Regions from separate parts of the Homo sapiens genome. Here all the other regions are linked to region 4. Evidence: fine-mapped expression QTL. A gene starts in region 4. Each other region holds a variant in brackets. All regions are shown on one strand. Distances are between the middles of the regions. Region 1 overlaps KIF25 (kinesin family member 25). Region 2 overlaps AFDN (afadin, adherens junction formation factor). Region 3 overlaps FRMD1 (FERM domain containing 1). Region 4 holds the start of KIF25 (kinesin family member 25).

Region 1 (5,197 bases), 28 kb after region 4:
TGTTCTGTTGCCGAGGCTGGAGTACAGTGGCACAATCTCAGCTCACTGCAAGCTCCACCTTCTGGGTTCGAGCGATTCTCCTGCCTCAGCCTCCCAAGTAGCTGAGACTTCAGGCATGCACCATCACATCCGGCTAATTTTTGTATTTTTAGTAGAGACAGGGTTTCACCATGTTGGCCCAGCAGGTCTTGAACTCCTGACCTCAAGTGATCGGCCCACCTTGGTCTCCCAAAGTGCTGAGATTACAGGCGTGAGCCACCATGCTGGCTAATATTTGTATTTCTAATAGAGACCGGGTTTCACCATGTTGGCCAGGCTGGTCTTGAACTCCTGAACTCAAGTAATCCATCCGCCTCAGCCTCCCAAGGGCTAGGATTAAAGGCGTGAGCCACCGTGCCCAGCCAGTTTCCTTTCTTTCTTCCCTTCAACGTCAGCAGCATATTTTAAAACATATTTTGTTTCTATTTTATCTGCATTACTTACATGTTGGTTAGGGGAGAGAAAGGGAGTTGTATCTTAGCCACCATGTGTCGCGATCTGGTGCTTCAGAGACAGTGCACTTTGCAGAATGTGTTTTACTACTCAAGGATTGCAATAATATTAGAATCTGTATAGTCTCATGCATTTTTATTATTTACTGAAAAACATTTTATTTGTATATCTAAAACCAAATAACTTGATTTTTTTCCCCTAAAATAATCATATTTAAAAATCTCACTATGAATACTCAAGAAAATTTTCATCAGTTTCACATGTAATAAAGTAGCTTCCTGAAGAAACTTCCATACACGGTGCTGGTGGTTCAATGGATTTAATTTGTAAGAGCAAAGCCAGTCTTCACGTGCAAAAGCTTTTTCTCATGTCTGTGCACTAAAAACAGTATAGAGAAAAATGATACTTTTTATCAGTGTAGAAAAGAAGCAAATTTATGAGCACTTTGGAGTAATAGCCCCATGGCTTAGCTTCATCATGTTTGTTTATGCAAACACTTGTGGAACTTTGCTTCCTCGTGACACACAGTTTTTTTTACAATCCTTCACTGGGCTGACCTTTCTTCCACTATTGATTTTGTCCTCTTTTGATGACTCAATTATGCAGGGGAATAATCTTAGTAAAAACCTCTCTCTTTTTTTTTTTTTTTTTTTTTTTTTTTTTTACTGTGCTTCAGAGTAATCTGGTGTTGGGCTAGGTAAGGAGGGAAATGGGGTTGGCCTGACTCCTTCCAGGAGTTTATACCCTAGTTGAGAACTAGGCTTGGGATGGGAGGCTTGGGAGATCTTTACAATGATAAGTAATATCAACGTTGGCAGAATAAGGTGAAGCAATCAAAATAGGTGACATAATTGGCCAAGGATGGAGAAGAAAGGAATGTTCGGGGCCGGGCACGGTGGCTCACACCTGTAATCTCAGCACCTTGGGAGGCCAAGGCGGGTGGATCATCTGAGGTCAGGAGTTCAAGACCAGCCTGGCTGGCTGGGCACGGTGGCTCACGCCTGTAATCCCAGCACTTTGGGAGGTCTAGGTGGGTGGATCACCTGAGGTCAGGAGTTCGAGACCAGCCTGGTCAACATGGTGAAACCTCATCTCTACTAAAAATACAAAAATTAGCTGGGCGTGGTGGCACACGCCTATAGTCCCAGCTACTCGGGAGGCTGAGGCAGGAGAATCGCATGAACCCGGGAGGCAGAGGTTGCAGTGAGCCGAGAATGTGCCACTGCACTCCAGTCTGGACGACAGAGTGAGATTCTGTCTTCAAAAAAACGAAAAAGAAAGAAAGGAATGTTTGGAATGGAACAGGGTTAATGAGGGAAGCACCTCTGGGGAAGAGGCCTTGAGCCTGGACTCAGCTCTGGAGGTTTAGGTGGGACAGGCATCCCAACAAAGGACAGAGACTCATCAGAGACGCGGGGACGCTCACTGATGAAGGACCTGGGGGTGTGGCTGGGGAATGTCTCCTTCGTGATGAATTCTTCTCAGTTTCCCTGTGTCCCTCGGTTGGAGGCCGCTGCTCCAACTTCTCATTTCCCGCTCCTGCTTCATCTCTTGGAATAGTGTTTGGCACATTATAGTATCTGCTTCTACTATCGTCTTCCCAACTGGAACACGAGCCCCGCGGGGCTGGGGACAAGGTCTTACCTTGCATCCCAATAAATGAGCATTTCATTTAAATTGTGTTTAAAATCGTGGCTTGCTGGATGATGGCTGAACCGTGTCAGCTGGTGTCGGTGGTAGATACATTGTGGTAAAAGCTTTTTCCTTCCTCCCGACCCCACCTCCAATCCTTGCAGTTTACTGTTACACACCCTAGACTTGACTTGGGAAGTAAACAGCGCCAGCTTAAGGAAGCACGTGGCCTATTGATAAAGGATTGGGCTGAATGTTTAGAGCCAAATGCACCCTTCGGTTAAAGTGCTGAAGGATTCAATGCGCACCTTCGGGTGCTTAGCACAGAGCTGCTGAGAAGGAATAAAGTAGGGTCGGATTAGGAATAAAAAGTTTAAAGTATGATCCTTTCCCCACGCGGCTTACACACAGGCTGTGGGTATCGGTCATCACCGCAAAGCAGCCAGAGTCCCACAGAGTGTGCGGCCGAGTACTGAGTGACAGAGAAATTCCTGTGGGCAAGAGAGTCACAGAGTGGCTAGAGCTTGAGCTGGGTGGAGTTTAGTTACATACGTCACCTACACGTAGCCCTTGGCAGTCTCCAAGTACTTTCAGGCCGTTGGTCGTCCCAGGAGGACCTGAAGAGGAAGCTGCGGGGGGCACCACCGCCCAGTCTAGTTAAACGATGGCTTTTAGTAAGCGTTGGATTTGGGCAGAAGGTCTCAGTCTTTGGGTTACACCAGGCTGCTGCTCAGGTCAGTGGAGAAGCACAGGCAAGGGCACTGTGGTGGGGAAACCACCCTCGGGGATCGTGTGACCTTGTTTTGGGGAAGAAGGAAGTGGAGCAGCACAGTTCATGCCGACACGTGTCTTCTCAGAGGGCCCTGTCTCAATATGAATACGCTGAGGGTCGAAGGGAAACATCAAAATTGTGCTGTTAGAAGTGAACAGAAAAATGGAAGAATTTGTGCAACTTGCTGTCTATCTATAGAGTTAGGGGAGACTTTAAATATAAATCTCTGCAAGAATTCATTCTGGGGTAATATTGTTTAGCATTCAGGATCA[C/T]CGTGTTTTTATAAACAGTGGAGCATATGGTTCTTATGAAATCAGAACATTGTTGGTTTTTATAACAGCTTTTTATGGAACTAACGAATGTCAAAATATTTTATTTCCATTCTAAAAAAAATTCCAACACTTTCAGCCCTTAACTTATTTTAAAAATAAATTTGTATGAGGGGGAAAGTTCAATTTTACTATTCAGAAAAAATATTAATAGGTCCAGGGTAAGAAGAAGGTTATTTTCTAAGTGAAATAAAAATATTATTTAAAAAAGGCAAACCAAAAGTAATGCCACTGATCCAAAATGCAAGGAGAAAAAGAATAAGTCATGTTCATTGTTTTGAGAAGAATTCATTTATCAGGAAGCTGAAGGACTGCTGGCTGTATTCTTGTAGAACAGGAATTTACAATGTGATATTCCTAACTGACACATTTGTGTGAAATTTCTATAGTCGTTCAAGTTCAAGCATTTTTCTGAGCACCTATTATGTGCCAGGCACCCTGTTAGACACAAGGGATGTAGGTGAGAGGAAGGCAGCATTTTTGCCACCAAGACCTAGAGCTGTAGGGACCGTTCCCAGGAGGCTGCGCTGAGCTCAGAAGCCACCAACACAGCAGTGGGGCAGGAGGCAGAGATGGGGGAGGCCCTCGACCTGGGGCTTGACAGCTCAGCTAACCAGGAGTTAACCAGGCATAGAAAAAGGGAAAGGTGGCCGGGGGTGGTGGCTCACGCCTGTAATCCTAGCACTTTGGGAGGCAGAGGCGGGCAGATTGCCTGAACTCAGGAGTTCGAGACCACCCTGGGCAACATGGTGAAATCCCGTCTCCACTAAAATACAAAAAATTAGCTGGACGTGGTGGCACACACCTGTAGTCCCAGCTACTTGAGAGGCTGAGGCAGGGAGAATCGATTGAACCAAGGAGACAGAGGTTGCAGTGAGCTGAGATTGGGCCATTGCACTCCAGCCTGGGCGACAGAGCAAGACTCTGTCTCCAAAAAAAAAAAAAAAAAAAAAGAGAGAGAGAGAAAGAAAAAGGGAAAGGAGATTCCAGGTTGGGGGGAAAATGGTCAAAGTTATGAAGAAAAAGAATGAGAATGACAGGGTCCAAGCACAGGAGCCTTGGGTGTGGCTGGACATGACTGTGGGAGGTGGGTGCTGGGGGTGCCAGGTCCCAGGGCCAGCTTCCCACTGGCACCGGGACCGCCCCTCCTCCCCGGACAGCCGCGTGGGCAAGGCCGGCTTCCCTCCACATCCCCACGGAGCACGAGGTCAGATGCATGGGTTGTTCCGGTCCGTGGGTGAGAAACGGGTTCTCTGTGTCGCGTCTCTTCAGAGCGAAGTTGAGTCTTTTCGTGTGCTTCTGACATTCGCATCTTTTTTTCTGTGCATTCTTCACTTCTCTACAAGGACTGACCTTTCCCTTCTCTATCTCTAGGAGCACTTGATAGAACAGAAATATTTAAGCCGCCGCTACTTTCTCAGTCTGTCGTTTGCTTCTGGTGTCTTTGAGCCACACGAACATGTTTACATGATCGTAGGTAAAAAGGCTGCCAGGTTCCAGAAGAACCCCCCTGTGGACTCTGCTGGGACACGCATGGCCGGGTGGTTTTCATTAAACTCGTGGTCTGTTGGGAATGTGTCCTAGTCCATTTTATAAAGAATTGACCCCATTTTATCTTTTTATATCTATTCATTTACTGCAACGCCACTTATTTTTTAAAATATTAATTAAAAATAATATTTTAAAATTTATTTATTTAAAAAAAGGATATAGAGATGGAGTTTTGCCCGTTGCCCAGGCTGGTCTCAAACTCTTGGGCTCAAATGATCTGTCCACCTTGGCCTCCCAAAGTGCTAGGATTACAGGCGTGAGCCATCGTGCCCGGCCTGTAACACCACTTATTAAAACACCTCTCTCCCCACTGACCTGAGATGCCCCTTTATCTGACAGCCCGTTGCCACATGGAGTTGTATCTGTCTTCCTTCGGCCTACTTACTAATTCACGCAGCAAGACCAAGCTGTCATAGATAGA
Region 2 (5,000 bases), 41 kb before region 4:
TAGTATTTCTGTAAGTATCTTTTTCTGTGAGGACTAAACTTTTATTTAAAGGTCTCTCAGAGTTTTTCCAAATGGGTTAAAACACTGAATATTTCAAAGCCTTTTAGTATGAATTGCGATATTTGGAAAGTTTCTTATGAAAATTTAGTAAAAAATATTTGCTTTTTGCTTAGTAGTTCTGTTACAATTAGTATCTTAGTCTCCAAATAAGAAAGCTAAGGGAAATTTTGCTGTTTTTTATTTTCTATGTATCCTAATGATGAAACTCATTTAATACCATGTGGGCATTTTTCTGTTTCTGAATACTAGAAGTTAGTCTGTAGTTCTTTACCTTTCTCATCAAGTTGTCGAAACACAGATGACGCATGATAGTGAGAAAATATGCCGATGGCAGATTACAGGTCTAAACCTAACTTTTTTTTCCACACTTCATCTTTCTTTTTTTTTTTCTTTCTCTGTTACCTGCAGCAGACTGCTATGCCAGCAATCTCTGTTCTAGATTTGGTATGTTCTTGTTTCTTTCCCTTTGGTACTTTTTTCCTGTCTTGATTTTCTTTTCTTTCAGTGGTGGCTGTTTGATGTTTTCAGTAGATCCAGTTCTCCTTAGGGGTGTCCTCCATCAGGAGATGGAGTCCCTGACACTTTAGAAGCATGCCTTTGAATGTTCCTAGATTTAGTTACTCTTTGCTTTTCTCCGTTAATTTTAAGTGTTACTGTTTGTTTATGGTTTTGACCTTTTCTCGGTTTCAGTCATAAATTGATTCCGTGTATTCTTACGTAGTCATAAATACATGAGCAAATGAAATAAATTTTGTAATGAGTAATCTATTTCATTTTTTTCACATTAGACATAGATTTTAAATATTCAGTTGTTATAAACTCAGCTGAAAGGGTATTGACATTATTTGCCAGTTAAGATATAACTGTCTGTTGGTAGAGTAAGAGATTTCCAGTGAACATGTATTCTATGTTTTCTTTAATAATATAACATGGATTTTAATTCAGTTTATCAGCCATGCCAATTTATCAGTCTGCTGAAAAATACTTGAGGTTCATGGTCTGTTGTAAATTCAAAGTGTTCATTGTCATATTGGGGAAGTTTGGCTCATCGTTTAGGGCCCATTATGCTTGCGTATGGTATCTTTATCACCTGCTAGACAATTATACTCTGATATATTTATATAAACTTGAAGACAAATTCTAGTCAACTTATAAAGACAAAAGCCAATATCAGACGGTACATTTAAAACCTGTGAATCAAGGTTTGACTTTAGTGGCCTTTTCACCAAATAATAGTCCCCTTTTCCTTCCCCCCTCAGTTTAGCACAGCGGTAATAACACCTTAGAGAGGAACCTTTCTTACAAACACCTTCCCTCCTTGGTGATTGGAAGGCATATTTTCTGAGCTTTGCATTTTTTTTTTTACATGAAACAAAGATTTAAAAGTTATACATTTTTCTCCCTACTTCTTTGTGTGTTTTGATGTACATAAGTGTAGCTGGAAGATATTGATCAGAGTCACCTTAGTGTGAGATATTCATTCAGCAAATACTTGCTCAGCATCCATGACACGGTGGGCACTGACCTGAGGCATTGAAGATACCAGCCAGCTCTCAGGCCCAAAGAGAGTTTCTTATACTATGAAGAATTCTGTGACACATGAACAGTAAAATAATGCTTGCAATAAGGTTTTTGTTCCATAGAAATAATTCAGAGAGTTTCTTTCTTTAGAAGATAATTATTTTGAGTATTAATATTGATCTTAACCACATGTTTCTGAGCATTTCTTAGCCCAGTTCCCCAGTACATATTATTAACAGCACCTCATTATTTATAAAATTCTTGGGTGGGCACAGTGGTTCATGCCTGTAATCCCAGCACTTTGGGAGGCCGAGCAGGTGAATCACCTGAGGCCAGGAGTTCAAGACCAGCCTGACCAACATGGTGAAACCTCGTCTCTACTAAAAAT[A/G]CAAAAATTAGCTGGGCACAGTGGCGGGCACCTGTAATGCCAGCTACTCAGGAGGCTGAGGCATGACACTTGCTCGAACCCAGGAGGTGGAGGTTGCAGTGACCAGAGATTGCACCACTGCACTCCAGCCTGGGGAACAGAGCGAGACTTTGGCTCAAAAAAAAAAAAAAAAAAAAAAAAAACTATAGAATTCTTTTTATGTAAGAATTGGCAGGTTACCCTAGGAGACCCTCATCTGTGAAGATATTAGCCCTCTCCTTAATAAGGATAAGGGCAAATATGTGACTATATAGGGAGTGACACTACCCAGTATGGTTCTTAAGATATTTTCTTAGACACATCACAGGATTTTCAGGTAGGTAATTAGAGAAATGAGGCAGGTCTTTTCCTGTTTGGAAGCAGCTGAGTTTCATAAAGTTGGGAGGCTGCCTGCACTCGTTTCTGCTCTTCCCTCTGGTCTCTTTGTGACCCATCACCCCTGTCAGTCCAGGGCCTACCTTCTCCATCCTCTGTGCTCACTTCCGACCTGAGACGGTAGCACCACTTTGATGCCAGCAATATCCTCATTTGATTTCTAGTCCAAACTTCTCACATACTAAAGACTCAGATATCCACCTGCCCATGTAACATCTCCACATGGAGTCAAGTAAGACTTTTGGAATGCAGCATGCTCAAAGTGAAATCTTTGTCTGCTTCACTCACCTTGCACTGCTCATCATTCTGCCTTCAGCCTTCCCCATTTCAGCTGATGCTTCGAGTTGCTCAGGCAAGAAACCTCACAGTCATGCATGACCCCCTTTTTTCTCTGTTCAGAAACTCTACTGGCTTGACCTCCTCACAACCTGACCAATCTCTGTGCCCCCGTGACCAGAGCCTCTCTCCTTTTCCTGCCGGGGTCACTGCGAGAGACTGGCAGGATCCCTCGGTACTGTCCCCCAGTCCCTTCACAGGACAGCCTTGACATAGCATACAGCAGTCTCACGAGAATGTCCTCACAGCCCTCCTAAGTCTCTCCTTTCACTTAGACAGGCGGTCTAAGTTTGCTCGGGTCTCATCTCCTCTTCACACCCTTGCCCACTGGCCCTCCAGCCTGCCTGCCTGCCTTCTAGTGACCCTCCACATGTTGGGCCGTCGGGAGGGTCCCTGCCTGTCTCCATGGCTGACCCTCTTGGCACATGCAGGTGTCTCTCAGATGCCACCTTTCTGGGGGGGCCCACCTGCCCCCACTGCTTCATATGGGGGGGGCCCACCTGCCCATGCTGCTTTGTATCAGGGGCCCACTGGCCTCACTGTGTCCTGTGTGTTTTTCTGTGGACATGCTATACACATTACTCATCATTAGGCATGTTTGTCTCTTCTGGGTAGCGCCACCTCCATGGGAACAGTGACCTTTGTCCAAGTTTCTAGAAGAGTTCTGGAGTGTGGTAGGCAGTCGAGTGAGTGGGATCGGATTCCAGGCCAAGGTCCCAAGCTCTCGAAGGTGTGTGACCTTCCTGACTGTTAGCATCTCAAGAGTAAAGCTGTTACTAGGTTGTTTCCTATTTTAATGACTGAGATGGTGTGTAAGTCATGTTCAAACCAAAGTCTGACTTGCTGGAGGGATCTCCTTCAGCACTAGATTATGATGAAGCCCATTGTGTCGTTAGGGCTTTTCCTTTATATCGCATGGGCAAATCCAGGACACCTGGAATTCGTCAGGATGTCTGCTTTCTCCTGGCAGAGTACTCTGTCCTAGCCTTGGAACCTGTCTCTAACTTGAGTAGCCGGTTAGTTAGGACCATGGAGGTGGCCGTGACTGTGGCTGCAGCTTTGCCTGGCTGCAGCCTCGAGAAGTAGCTAGTCCTTCCACCTGATGACAAGGTGTGTGATTCGTGCCTTCATTGCTCCAGGTTGCCACATAACTGCATATATTCCTCTCATTTCCTCATGACAAAGCTATTCTATGGCAGAGCACAAGGGCCTAAGCCAGCATGGAAGAGATTGACCCAGTATCACACAGAGCACGTGAGAGCCAGGGTCCCCAAACCCACCATGGGAGAGACTTTGCCAGTACATGTTGAACATTCCTAATCTGAAAATTCAGAATCCAAAATCCAAAACTCTTTGAGCACCGACATTATGCCACAAGTAGAAAATTCCACACCTGACCTCAGTGAGAGGTTGTAGTCAAAGCTTCGTTTTATGTCCAAAATTATTTCAAATATGTTATAAAATTACCTTTAGGCTATATATATAGTGTATATGAAACAGAAATCAATTCATATTTAGACTTGGGTCCTGTTTCCAGGAAATCTCATTACATATATGCAAATAGTCCAAAAATAAAAAATCCAAAATTTGAAACACTTCTGGTTCCAAGCATTTTGGATAAGGGATACTCTGCTTTGTATCACATGGATCAGGTGAGAGTGAAGGTTTTAACGAGAGTTTTCTGAATTCATATTACGTGCCCTTTCTAGGACACAAAAATGCCTCTTTTTGTAACACTGTAGTGGCAGGAACCATTTTCTCGAAATTTACTTGGTTTGACAAATCTCTCAGTGGCTAAGCTCAGGTTTGTCTTGTTAACACGTTTTAATGGATCATCTGCTGACTCAGAAAACATGAGAACTCACAGGAGAAATTCCTCCCCCTTGGGGTAATAATACCAGTGAAAAGATGTTTTCAAAGAGTTCCGTGGTTCTGCTGCTTTCCTTACATGAAAGCCCAAGCTAGGTCTTCCCTCCTCTTCCGCTTTCTTGTTTTTGTTTGCTTGTTTTTGCGTGGAACTGTAGAAATTGGACATGCCCCTCTTGAGCATCCCAGGTATAGAAGGGGTTGAATTAAAAGCCTTATAAAAATTTCAAGCAGGAATTAGTAGGAAGCCTAATTTCAGAATTGTTTCTTCAGAGAAATCTATCTGGGGGAAGTCAGACTGTATTTTGTCTATTCAAATTGGAGTGCCTCTAGAATGAAAATGGGCCCTGCCCAGAATATCAGAGCCACAGTGTAGTCACAGTGCATCTTCAGGAAGTCTCAGTTTTACTCAAGG
Region 3 (5,197 bases), 53 kb after region 4:
GGCTAAAGCCACGTGGCCCCCGGGACAGTATTTGCTGGGTGGGAGTGTCCTGTGCCTTATGGGGACCTGGCGTCCTTGGTGCCTGTCTGCTCAATGTCACTTGTGTCCCCTCATCATTGTGATGACTTGAATGACCCCACAGGTTCTGAGATGCTCCCTCAGTGCCCAAAATAAAATCAAACTTCTCTTTAGGGTTGGCCCTTAGGCAGGCAGATGCCCCTGGCTCAGGAAGCCCCTCACCGGCTTGCTGAGGTGCGAAGTTCCTTTAGTAGGACAGAGACACCAACGCACAAATGATGGACTCAGGAGGTGGCAGCTCTGGTGAGATGGAAGCTTCTCTGTGGAGCCCGCACTGAACAGCAGTGCCAAGCAACAACTGCCGCCAGGCCCTGCCGTCCTCCTTCTGACCTTGAAGGGCCCGAGCTGCTGCCATAGCGTGACCGAAGGGACAGCCTGGCTGAGCCGCGTGACACTCGACAAGCCTTCTTTGTGTGTTTGATGAAGTTCCTCTCTGAGCAAGGCCGGCGTTGTGATAACCAAGCTGCCTTTGTAGAGGATGCGTGGACGCCTCGCCCCACAGCTGCGTGGGGCCCACAGTGGTGCCCCGAGACGGGCACCGTGTGAAAATGGCAGAGCTTCCCTCTGGGGAAGTGTTGGACCGGCTCTGGCCAGCCTCTACGCGGGATGGCAGAGGCGCGAGTGACTCAGGAACCTGCCAGTCACAGCCTAGAGCAAGGGCGTCTACAGAGACTGGGAGTTGGGGCAGTGGGCGTGGGGGGCGCTTGGGCCCCAGGCACCGGACCCCACTGCCTGCCACCCTCGACGCCCCCACGCTGCAGACTGGAACCCTCTGCCCCATCACAGGGCGTGCAGCTGAGTCCTCGCTTCCCAGGTTTTCGTCTGCCTCTCACTCCCAACTCCTCATTTCCTAGAAGGAAGCCTGGGCCCAGTCTTCACCCTGGTCCACTTGGCCACACCCAGAGTGCCAGGGTTTCAGAGCAAACCAGCCCAGTCTCCAGGGTGTGGGGCTGCAGGCACTCACCCCACCGCTGGCCACCACCAGTGATTTCAGTGGCCCATCACCGTGGTGCTGACACGCTGCCCCTAAGAAGGGAGAGGGAGGGACGGACCCAGGAAACATACAGAAAAAAAACCCAAAACTAGTCAGTGACTAAAACTCAAAGACGTCCCATCAATTAACAGCTCTGCTCTGGGGTTACTATCTTCATGTTCATTAGCTTCTTCCTCTTGGCTCAGGGCCTCTGAAGGTGTTTAGGATCAACCCATTTGAAAAGCAAGGACGCTGAGGCTGTGGAAGTCCACGTACTTACTGACTCGCAGCGCCTGTGAGTGGGCGGGAAGGAGCGTCTGCCCCTCAGTCGTGGTCCGGCTCCTTCTCTCACAGACGTGGACCTTTGGAGGGCAGTCCCAGCGCCACGGAGAAATGCATCTCCAGAAACACTCGTGGCTTCCTCAAACTGAGCACAACCAGACCTCCCCAGCGCTGACCTACGGCACAATTGTTCATGCACGAGAGCCGCCTTATGGGGTGAGTGCGTGACTCTGGTGCGAGGTTTATGTTCCCAGGGCTGACATGTCTGGGAGCTTCACAGCTGGACGAGGCATATTTGGAGGGGCGCCTTGAACCTGGACAGCACCCCCTCCTTGCCTCCCTCAGGCCGTTTGGCCACAGAACCTGTGACATGGGCAGGCTCAGGAGAGGAGAGGAGGAAGGGAAGGAGCCCAGGCCCCGAGGAGGGAAGATTGCCGGGGGCCAGGGTGGGGGTGGGGTGGGGTGGGGGCCCAGGGCCCAGGGCTGGGGCAGCTCTGGGTGCCAAATGCGGTTTCGTCCAGAGGACACTGCAAGGCTGGAATGAAACACCCTGTCCTCTTCAGCTTGTAGCGGGTCAGAGGCCGCTGGTTTTGAAGAGATTTGCCAGTGATCTGTGGGAGGAAACACTCAGCAGAGGTTTAGGTGGCACGTGGAGACTGTGCGGGGAATACAGCCCAAATGGGGAGGACAGAAGACACCACAGCCACCCAGGGTGTGAGAGCTGCGACAGGCGCCTGTTAGAGCGGAACCACAGGGGCCCGGCCCCATCTCGGGGTCCGGGGTGGCTTCCCTGCGGGGGCGGCCTCTGTGCAGAGGCCTGAAGGGTCCACAGTGGCAAAGGGGGAATGACAAAGTGTCTGCCTGTGCCGGACCGAGTGATCTGTACTATAATTACCCTGTGAGGGGCGCACGCTGCCGTCCTAGAGCGTCACAGACACCAGCCCCCGGGCCTGTTGGTACTCGCCGGAGGTCCCTGCGTGCCCAGAGTCCCGCCCTGGCCATCGTTTAGTGTGAGGCAGGAGGGGGCCAGATATGGGGGGGACGCCTGGCTCCCCCAGATCTCTCTTGCCTGCTCTTTCCTCCGCAGGCTGCCTGTGCCCCTCCCCCGTAGCCAGGAACAGGCCCTGGGGAGTGGTGGGAGGCCGTGCAGTGAGGCTTGCGGCCCTGGATGCTCCCTCAGGACTGTCTGGGACCAGGCTCGTCTCACAATCCGAATTAACTGCAGACCTCACTTCGAGAACAGCCTGGCCCAGCCCTGATACTCGGGGAAAGAGCAGCGGTCGGAGGAGGCAGGAGGAGCGCACGGAGGGCAAGCCGGGGGCCCATGTGTGGCTGGGGCAGCCGTGGCCTCCTCAGCACAGTGTGAGCCCAGCAGCCTTGCCGTGGCCAAGGCCCTGGGCCTGGGAACTTGTAATCCAGTCGCTGACTTTGCTTAGTTAGCAGAAATGGAAGACACCTCATTTGTGGAGACCGAGGTGGTGGAATGTTGACCCTGGGGGTGTTGCTGTGGGAGGCC[A/G]GTGAGCTGTTAGCCCAGTGGGCAGGACCTGGGTGACCGACGCCCTGGGGGTCTCATAACTCCCTGGACCTTCTCCTTTCTTGGTGGAGCTTGGCCAAAACCCACGGATATTTTACATCTGTTTCCCTGAAGTGCTAGGGACGTTCTGTAGTTTCAGCCATGCTCCTCGGGCAAGCCCCGGGATGGGGTGGGGGGGGCCAGAACAATGTGGGGTGGGCGTGGCCGGACGCCAGCTGCCCCTCAGCAGGGGCTTCAGCTCCATCACAGCCATGTGGACTGTGGCTCAGCCTGGGTGGACAAGGAGGTGTATACAGTTAGCACAGCCAGAGCAAGCCAGCCCTGCCCACTGAGGTGCACAGAGCACCAATCCGCTGGCCCTCCCTCCCTCTTTCACCTGTTCTGTGCCCATTTATTGGCTGCCTCCTGTACCGGGGTCTTGCTTTGGCACCGAGGAAACTGCAGTCAAGGCCGGAGGCTCCTGCCTTGAAGATCCCAAGACCGGGATGGAGACTGATGAGCCGGATGTGTCCCAGCGTGTAATGCAGGGTGGGCTGAGTGCGCCCCCCGACGTCTGTGTGGGAATCCTCACCAGCAAGGCCATGGTGTTAGGAGGGGGTGCCTGTGGGAGCCGGTGAGGTTGTGAGGATGGAGGCTCACGGGTGGGATTAGTGCCTTTGTAAGGGGGGCCCTGGGAGCTCGCAAGCCCCTTCCGCCCTGAGAAGACGTAGCGGCCAGGGAGGGGGCCTGGACCAGGAATGGAACTGGCCGGCACCTCGATCCTGGACTTCCAGCCTCCAGAATCATGAGGAGTGGGCAGAGTGAGGCCACACGGCCTATGAAGATCTGTTGTAGTGACCAGAGGGAAGACACAGTGCAGTGGACACGCCGGGGCTGGTGTGTGTCCTGCAGCCTCTCTGGGAGCCCAGGGCACCTGCTCCCAGGAATCACATGTGAGAAGCAAAACACAAGGACAGGCTGCGGGGAGGCGGCCCCGGACCCCCACTGGATGCCTCACTTCACACACCTGCCACCGAGGGGGACAGTGCCGGCCTCCCAGACCTGCACCCCAGCCCACAGGTGGGCACTCCACCCATGCACTGTCAGGGCTGCCAAAGCCTCATGCCCTCCCACCACCTTCTGCTGGGCAGCCCCTTCCTCAGAGAACAAAGAGCATTTTGGTTTTTTTTTTGAGACAGGGTCTTGCTGCATCGCCCAGGCTGCAGTGCAGTGGCATGATCTCAGCTCACTGCAGCCTTGACCTCCTGGGCTCAAGTGATTCTCCCACCTCAGCCTCCCGAGTAGCTGGGACCACAGGCGCCACCATGCCCGGCTAATTTTATTTCTATATTTTTTGTAGAGATGGGGTTTTGCCAGGTTGCCCAGGCTGGTCTCAAACTCCTGGTCTCAAGTGATCCGCTCACCTTGGCCTCCCAAAGTGTTGAGATTACAGGTGTGAAGCACCGTGCCTGGCCATAAAGAGCATCCCGGAGGCTCCTGAGGCGCGTCCTCCTCCCAGCCCACCTCCTGCAGAGGCCCCCATTGGAGGCCGGCCTGTTCCCACTGTTACGTGTTCCCATGTCCGCTCAGGAGGGAGCCTGGCCCGCACCCCACAGGGCACACTCCTGCATCTGGCTCTGAGGACATGCTTCTTCCTCTTCTCCCACTGCGCCAGGCCCTGCCGCCGCCCCAACAGCGTGGATGTCCAGGGCTGTGGGCGGACAATGGCCCTGATGTCCAAGGACAGACAACAGAGGGTGCGGCGAACAGGTCCCCACTTGGTGACGGTGACGTCCAGTTCCTGCTGCGTGCACTGGTTTGTGACAGCAGCAGTGGCTGAATGGAGAGAACCACACCCCTGCCAGCGGGAGGCCTGGCTGGTCACCTGAGCACAGATGCCAGGGCAGAGCCAGGAGGGGACTCAGGATGAACACTGCCACCCTGGGGCGGCTGGAGAACCAGGCATGGGCCGGCGGCGAGCCGGGAGGGAGCCCCAGCCTGTGCCCAGTGGCCCGGGGGCCTCATCCGTAGCCAGGGGATGTGAGCAGGGAATGGCAGCCGCTGTGTGACCCAAGGTTCTGAGATCAGAGGAGTCCTCACCCTGGGCCCCGTTTTGAGGCCTGAAACTTCCATGGTTAGATGGTGATGGGGAGCCCTCCTTCAGGGCAAAAGATAAGATTACAAATTCTAAAGTATGAAAATAAATCTAAATACAGAAACATTAAAAAACCACCACATCACAAAGTTTAAAAAGCTGAAAAACACAGTAACACAATATTTGGTGACGGTTTTATTGGTGAGCTGCCTGTGATTAATAAACAATTAACCCGCGCCATTTTCCCCACTGCGTG
Region 4 (5,197 bases):
AATCACTGCTGTAGCCTAGTTTTCTTCAGTGCACTCTGCTCAGTAACTCCCCTAAGGCCGTGTTTGTAGGAGTGACGTGTGCATGCCTGTGTTCTTTTTTTGGGGGGCGGGGGGCGGCGGGGGACAGAATCTCACTCTGTCGCCCAGGCTGGAGTGCAGTGGCGCCATCTCAGCTCACTGCAACATCTGCCTCCTGGATTCAAGCTATTCTCCCACCTCAGCCTCCCGAGTAGCTGGGATTATAGGCGCCTGCCACCACGCCTGGCTAATTTTGTATTTTTAGTAGAGATGGGGTTTTACCATGTTGGCCAGGCTGGTCTCGAACTCCTGACCTCGGGTGATCTGCCCGCCTCAGCCTCCCAAAGTGCTGGGATTACAGGCACGAGCCACCACAGCCGGCAACGCCTGTGTTCTTATAAGCCATGTGCTCCAGGGAAAGGGACAATCATGTTATTTTGTGAAAAGCAGTGTACTTAAGCTTTGAAAAGGTGAAACTCAAAGGGAGAAGCAGGGAGCCGCCAAGGCTCTCCCGCAGAGGGAATGCTGACGTGTGAGGAGGCAGGGCCTGCTGAGGCCCTGCCTGTGGGAGCCACGGTGCAGTCCTGCCACACAGAGGGGTCCCCAGGCGGCTTATTTGTGCCCAGGCGTTAGGCTCAGGGGCTCGGGGCCTCCTTACCTGGCTTCCCTGGGGGCGCGACTTCTCCCCTCGAGTTCCATGCTCCTCAAAGATGAGCCTCAGCCACCTCAGGTGCCCAGGCAGCTCCTTTCAGCCGTGCTGACAAGAGGGATAGTGGGGACAGGCTGGTGGCTGGGGCCGGACACACTCAAGGCTCAGATGACCAAGTGACTGGGAGGGTCTCTCTCTTGCTGTGGGGGACCCTTCCCGCTTTCTTACGCCCACATTCAGTCTGGACCCGGTAACGGGTGTTTCTTTCAGAAAGGGAGCGTGCGCAGTTCTGCAAGTCCAGCTTGGTTTCAGGCCTCATGAGAGCTGCATCTGCGCTGAGGGGTCCTTGTCCCTGCAGGTCCTCGGGCCTGGGGTAGAAAGCCCCAGGCTGGGCTGCATCCTTTGGCTAAGTGACATGTGGAGGGGTCCCTGGCTATCATGACGCGTACAGCCGCGAGGCGTCCTCTGCAGCACGACACCGAGCTCCATGTCACACTCACGCTGCCTCCACGGCAATGGCCAGTCTGGGGATTGGGGTGTCCACGCTCGTCCAAGGCCCCCACGCGATGCCCACTCATCGCCACATCACCTGGCACCATCCTGGTAGGACAGAGGCGGGAGTAGAGGCCCAGGCCACTGTAACAATCCACAGCAGCAGAGCTGGGCCCCAGCATCTCCTTCCCTGCCCCACTCCCCCCTCACCAAGGGCTCCCAGGTGCTTTAGGAGCAGAGACCTCCTTGGCTGCCATGCAGACGATGGAGCAGCATTCACGGGCTGATGGCATTTGAGGCTGATGACGGACGGGGTGACTGTGGGGCCAGGTCCCCCAGGCGAGCTCTGTGAGTCCTTGGTCGTGGTGGAGACAGCGCAGCCTGGGTCCAAAGCAGTGAGGAGCACAGGCCACAGCACGCAGCCGGCCCTGGAGGACTCCATTATTTTTAAAAATGTCTCCCATACTTAGAGAAAGGAATTTGACCTGCTGGGCCCCATGGATGTCCTCTCCGGTAAAATGCCTCCGTCCCTTTGTCCTTTCAGCATGCCAGTCAAAGGTGGCGCACCTGGAGCGGGCCTTGCAGGACGTCAGTGCGCGTCACCAGCTGGAGAGGCAGAGAAGGAAGGTCCCGCACAACAGCCTGGTGGTGGGTGTGGGCGTCAGGGGAGACCTGGGGCGGCCCCGGGGAGAGGCCCACGCAGAACGTGCAGAAGCCTCCTCGCCGGAGGGACAGCGGGAGGGACAGCGGGGGGACAACAGGGGGGACAGCGGGGGGGGGACAGCGGGGGTGTGACAGCGGGGGGGACAGCGGGGGGGGACAGCAGGGGTGGACAGAGAGGTGGACAGCAAGGGGGACAGCGGGGCGGCCTGGCCGGAGGGCAGAGGGGCAGAGCTGCGGGGGCTGCGACCTGCGTCCTCTTCACCCAGGAGGCGATGGCAGCTGGAGGACGGGTGAGGGCGCCGCAGGCTGATTTAGGCTTTCGGGGTCACTCTGGCTGCTCGGTCGGGAGGCCACGACGGGGAGCAAAGGGGATGGCTGCAGTGTCACGGGGGCTGGTGGCCTGGGCCACATTGGTGGCGATGCAGGAAGTGGGACCGGCTGCTGTGAGGCACAAGGAAAGAGCTGTAGCGGGCAGTTGGGGGCGGGGGAATCTGCAGAGATGGGGGCGGGGGAATCTGCAGAGATGGGGGCGGGGGAATCTGCAGAGATGGGGGGCGGGGGAATCTGCAGAGATGGGGGGTCGGGGGAATCTGCAGAGATGGGGGGCGGGGGAATCTGCAGAGATGGGGGGTCGGGGGAATCTGCAGAGGTGGGGGCGGGGGAATCTGCAGAGATGGGGGCGGGGGAATCTGCAGAGATGGGGGCGGGGGAATCTGCAGAGATGGGGGGCGGGGGAATCTGCAGAGATGGGGGGCGGGGGAATCTGCAGAGATGGGGGGCGGGGGAATCTGCAGAGATGGGGGGTCGGGGGAATCTGCAGAGATGGGGGGCGGGGGAATCTGCAGAGATGGGGGGCGGGGGAATCTGCAGAGATGGGGACTTGCGCGGGAAAAGCAAGGATTTTGCTGTAACTGGAGATGCCGGTGGAGACTGCCCCTGCCCCTGCCCCTGCCCCTTCCTCACCAGCACCTTCCACCCACGTCTCTCACTGCCCATTAACAAGACCCAGAGGCTCTCGTGCTTTCTTGGTCGAAGGTATGAGACCTGAGATCCCATGAAATTTAATGTAAAGTCTCAGGGTTTGATTTTGCAACACGAGGATGCCAAGGTGGATGATTGAGTGGGTGACCCTCGCTTCTGTGAGGTTTGATTTTGATGGTTGCACTTTGGCCAGTTTCTCCGAATTCCACCTGCCCGAGGCCCACGAAGCCAGTGTTCCTGCGAAGCTTCTCTTCCCTGGCCATGCCGAGAGGTTCTCCAGCTGTTAGATGTGTCAAAGAATAATTCTCATTTTAAGCATCTACTTATGTAGTTCAGTGCTCCAAACATTGATATAAGAGAACATTTATTGAGTGCTTCCTGTGTACCAAGTACTTTTGAAACCATTTGGTGTATTTTCTTATTTAATCTTCACAATAGCACCACCTCTCTGGGTTGCTATAAAGACAAAGGGAGATATCAGTGAAGCACCTGGCACTTCAGAAAGTCTCACTACGCTGCAGCTTTTTTTTTTTTTAATCTGGAGCATGAAAAAGATAATATGAACCTTCCTAAGATGGAGTCAAGTCCCACAAGGAAGAATTGGTTGTGGAAGTTTCTGAGTGTTCCACCTCAAGCCTGGTCTCCTGGTCTAGCTGAGGAGCGTGCAGTGCGCGGCCCATGGAGAATATGCAGGCAGAGGCTGATCCCAGCTTCTGTGGGTTCATAGAGACCAGACGGAGGCTGTAAATCATTGGCCTATGACACCCACTTGGTTTTCAAAATGTAGAAGGAGCTGCTCAGCATGACAGGGTGGATAAACTTGCTGTGGATCCAAGACAAGATTTCAGAATGGATTTGGCAAGTTCTGAGCACATACGGAGAAGATGTGTTGCTCACTGGAAACCAGTGGAGTTTATGAGAATAAAAAGCTTCTAATTTCCTTCCAGTCATTAAATCAAGGAAATATGACAGATACTGAATTTCCAAAATCCCCTCTAAAATGCCTAAAATGTCGAGCCCAGGATGCCATTCAAAGGGATTTTCCTTGGTACTTATTACCAAGGGATACCCCTTTGCCAAGTGAACACATTTGTGAAGTATGAATCCAGAAGTTTAAAATAACTGTTCATGGCCGGGCACGGTGGCTCATGCCTATAATCCCAGAACTTTGGGAGGCCGAGGCGGGCGCATTACCTGAGGTCAGGAGTTCGAGACCAGCTTGGCCAACATGGTAAAAACCCTTCTGTACTAAAAATACAAAAATTAGCTGGGCGTGGTGGTGGGCACCTGTCATCCCAGCTACTCTGGGGGCTGAGGCAGGAGAATCACTTGAACCTGGGAGGCGGAGGTCGCAGTGAGCTGAGATTGCATCACTGCACTCCAGCCTGGGCGACAGAGCAAGACTCTGGCTCAAAAAATAAATAAATAAAATAACTGTTCACTACCCTGCAGGGGTCTTTCGAAGTGGAGACAGGTGCTGCAGATCTCACGGCCGCGTCTCAGGAGCTGGTGCCCGGTGCACGTTCAGTGGGGGATGCTCCGCAGTGCAGGCTCGCGCCCGGGTTGACACGCAGACCTCTTGATCATTGCAGGAGCTGAAACGAAATATCAGAGTTCACTGTCGGATTCGTCCTTTGTTGCCTTTTGATAGTGAATCCGACGATCCAGTTTTGCAGAGCAGGTAACCTGTGTTTGCACGGTGTGTGTATGTCTGTGTGCTCAGGGAAAAGACAGAGGAGTGGCACAATTTTAAATGCCGTCTACTGTCCTGTCCCCGGTCCCAAAGCAGGACATTCTCGAGTTGTGGGTGGGGGCTCTGTTTAAGGATGGCGCTGTCTTGCTGACAGTGGACACTCTGCAGCCCTCTGTAATACGGCCTGCAAAAGGCCAAACTGCCTGAGCAGGCCTCTCGTGCGTGGTAGTGGTTCTGCACCTGAGAGGGCGTCCGTCTTTTCGTGGTTTGCCTCTGCGGGGTCCGACCGAACAGGGACAGGCTTTGAATGGACTTTTCCCTTTATGTCACTATATCAAAAAGGGAGCACCCTGCCTTTATGAACCCCAAAGACCACCCACTCCGCCATGCAGGCAGTCAGTGAGTATTGACTCAACTGATACTTTTGACTTAGAGAAAGTTTTGATGGTATTCATGGATACAGCAAAATTATCTGAAGTTCATTTACTCAAATGCTTACTTGAAAACCATACTCAATATGACTTACTTCCTTCCCCATGAAACAAACCCCCTGGAAATCCCCACTCCCATCCTGACCACACCTGACCCTCCCCACTCCCATCCTGACCACACCTGACCCTCCCCACTCCCATCCTGACCACACCTGACCCTCCCCACTCCCATCCTGACCACACCTGACCCTCCCCACTTCCATCCTGTCT

The links. PIP is the estimated chance that this variant, and not a neighbour inherited with it, causes the effect.
Region 1: its variant is fine-mapped to the expression of KIF25 in lung (GTEx, PIP above 0.99).
Region 2: its variant is fine-mapped to the expression of KIF25 in cerebellar hemisphere (GTEx, PIP 0.95).
Region 3: its variant is fine-mapped to the expression of KIF25 in lung (TOPMed, PIP above 0.99).

Annotation. Positions count from the first base shown.
Region 1 is chr6:168,023,298-168,028,494 of GRCh38, forward strand. All of the region lies in intron 5 of KIF25 (kinesin family member 25), which reads left to right. Among named protein-coding and RNA genes, the nearest start is that of KIF25, 28 kb to the left of the region's middle. RefSeq lists a silencer at 2,062-2,240. The variant C/T (reference allele first, on the strand shown) is at 3,169.
Region 2 is chr6:167,953,990-167,958,989 of GRCh38, forward strand. The region is part of intron 30 of AFDN (afadin, adherens junction formation factor); the gene reads left to right. Among named protein-coding and RNA genes, the nearest start is that of HGC6.3, 23 kb to the right of the region's middle. The variant A/G (reference allele first, on the strand shown) is at 1,970.
Region 3 is chr6:168,047,972-168,053,168 of GRCh38, forward strand. It overlaps FRMD1 (FERM domain containing 1), which reads right to left. Exons shown (of 11, transcript NM_024919.6): 11 at 5,124-5,197. Among named protein-coding and RNA genes, the nearest start is that of FRMD1, 29 kb to the right of the region's middle. RefSeq lists an enhancer at 446-945. The variant A/G (reference allele first, on the strand shown) is at 2,850.
Region 4 is chr6:167,994,837-168,000,033 of GRCh38, forward strand. KIF25 (kinesin family member 25) reads left to right here and starts at 2,835. Exons shown (of 13, transcript NM_030615.4): 1 at 2,835-4,034; 2 at 4,256-4,484. KIF25-AS1 (KIF25 antisense RNA 1) reads right to left here and starts at 2,241. Exons shown (of 4, transcript NR_103750.1): 1 at 2,070-2,241; 2 at 1,402-1,765; 3 at 677-1,267.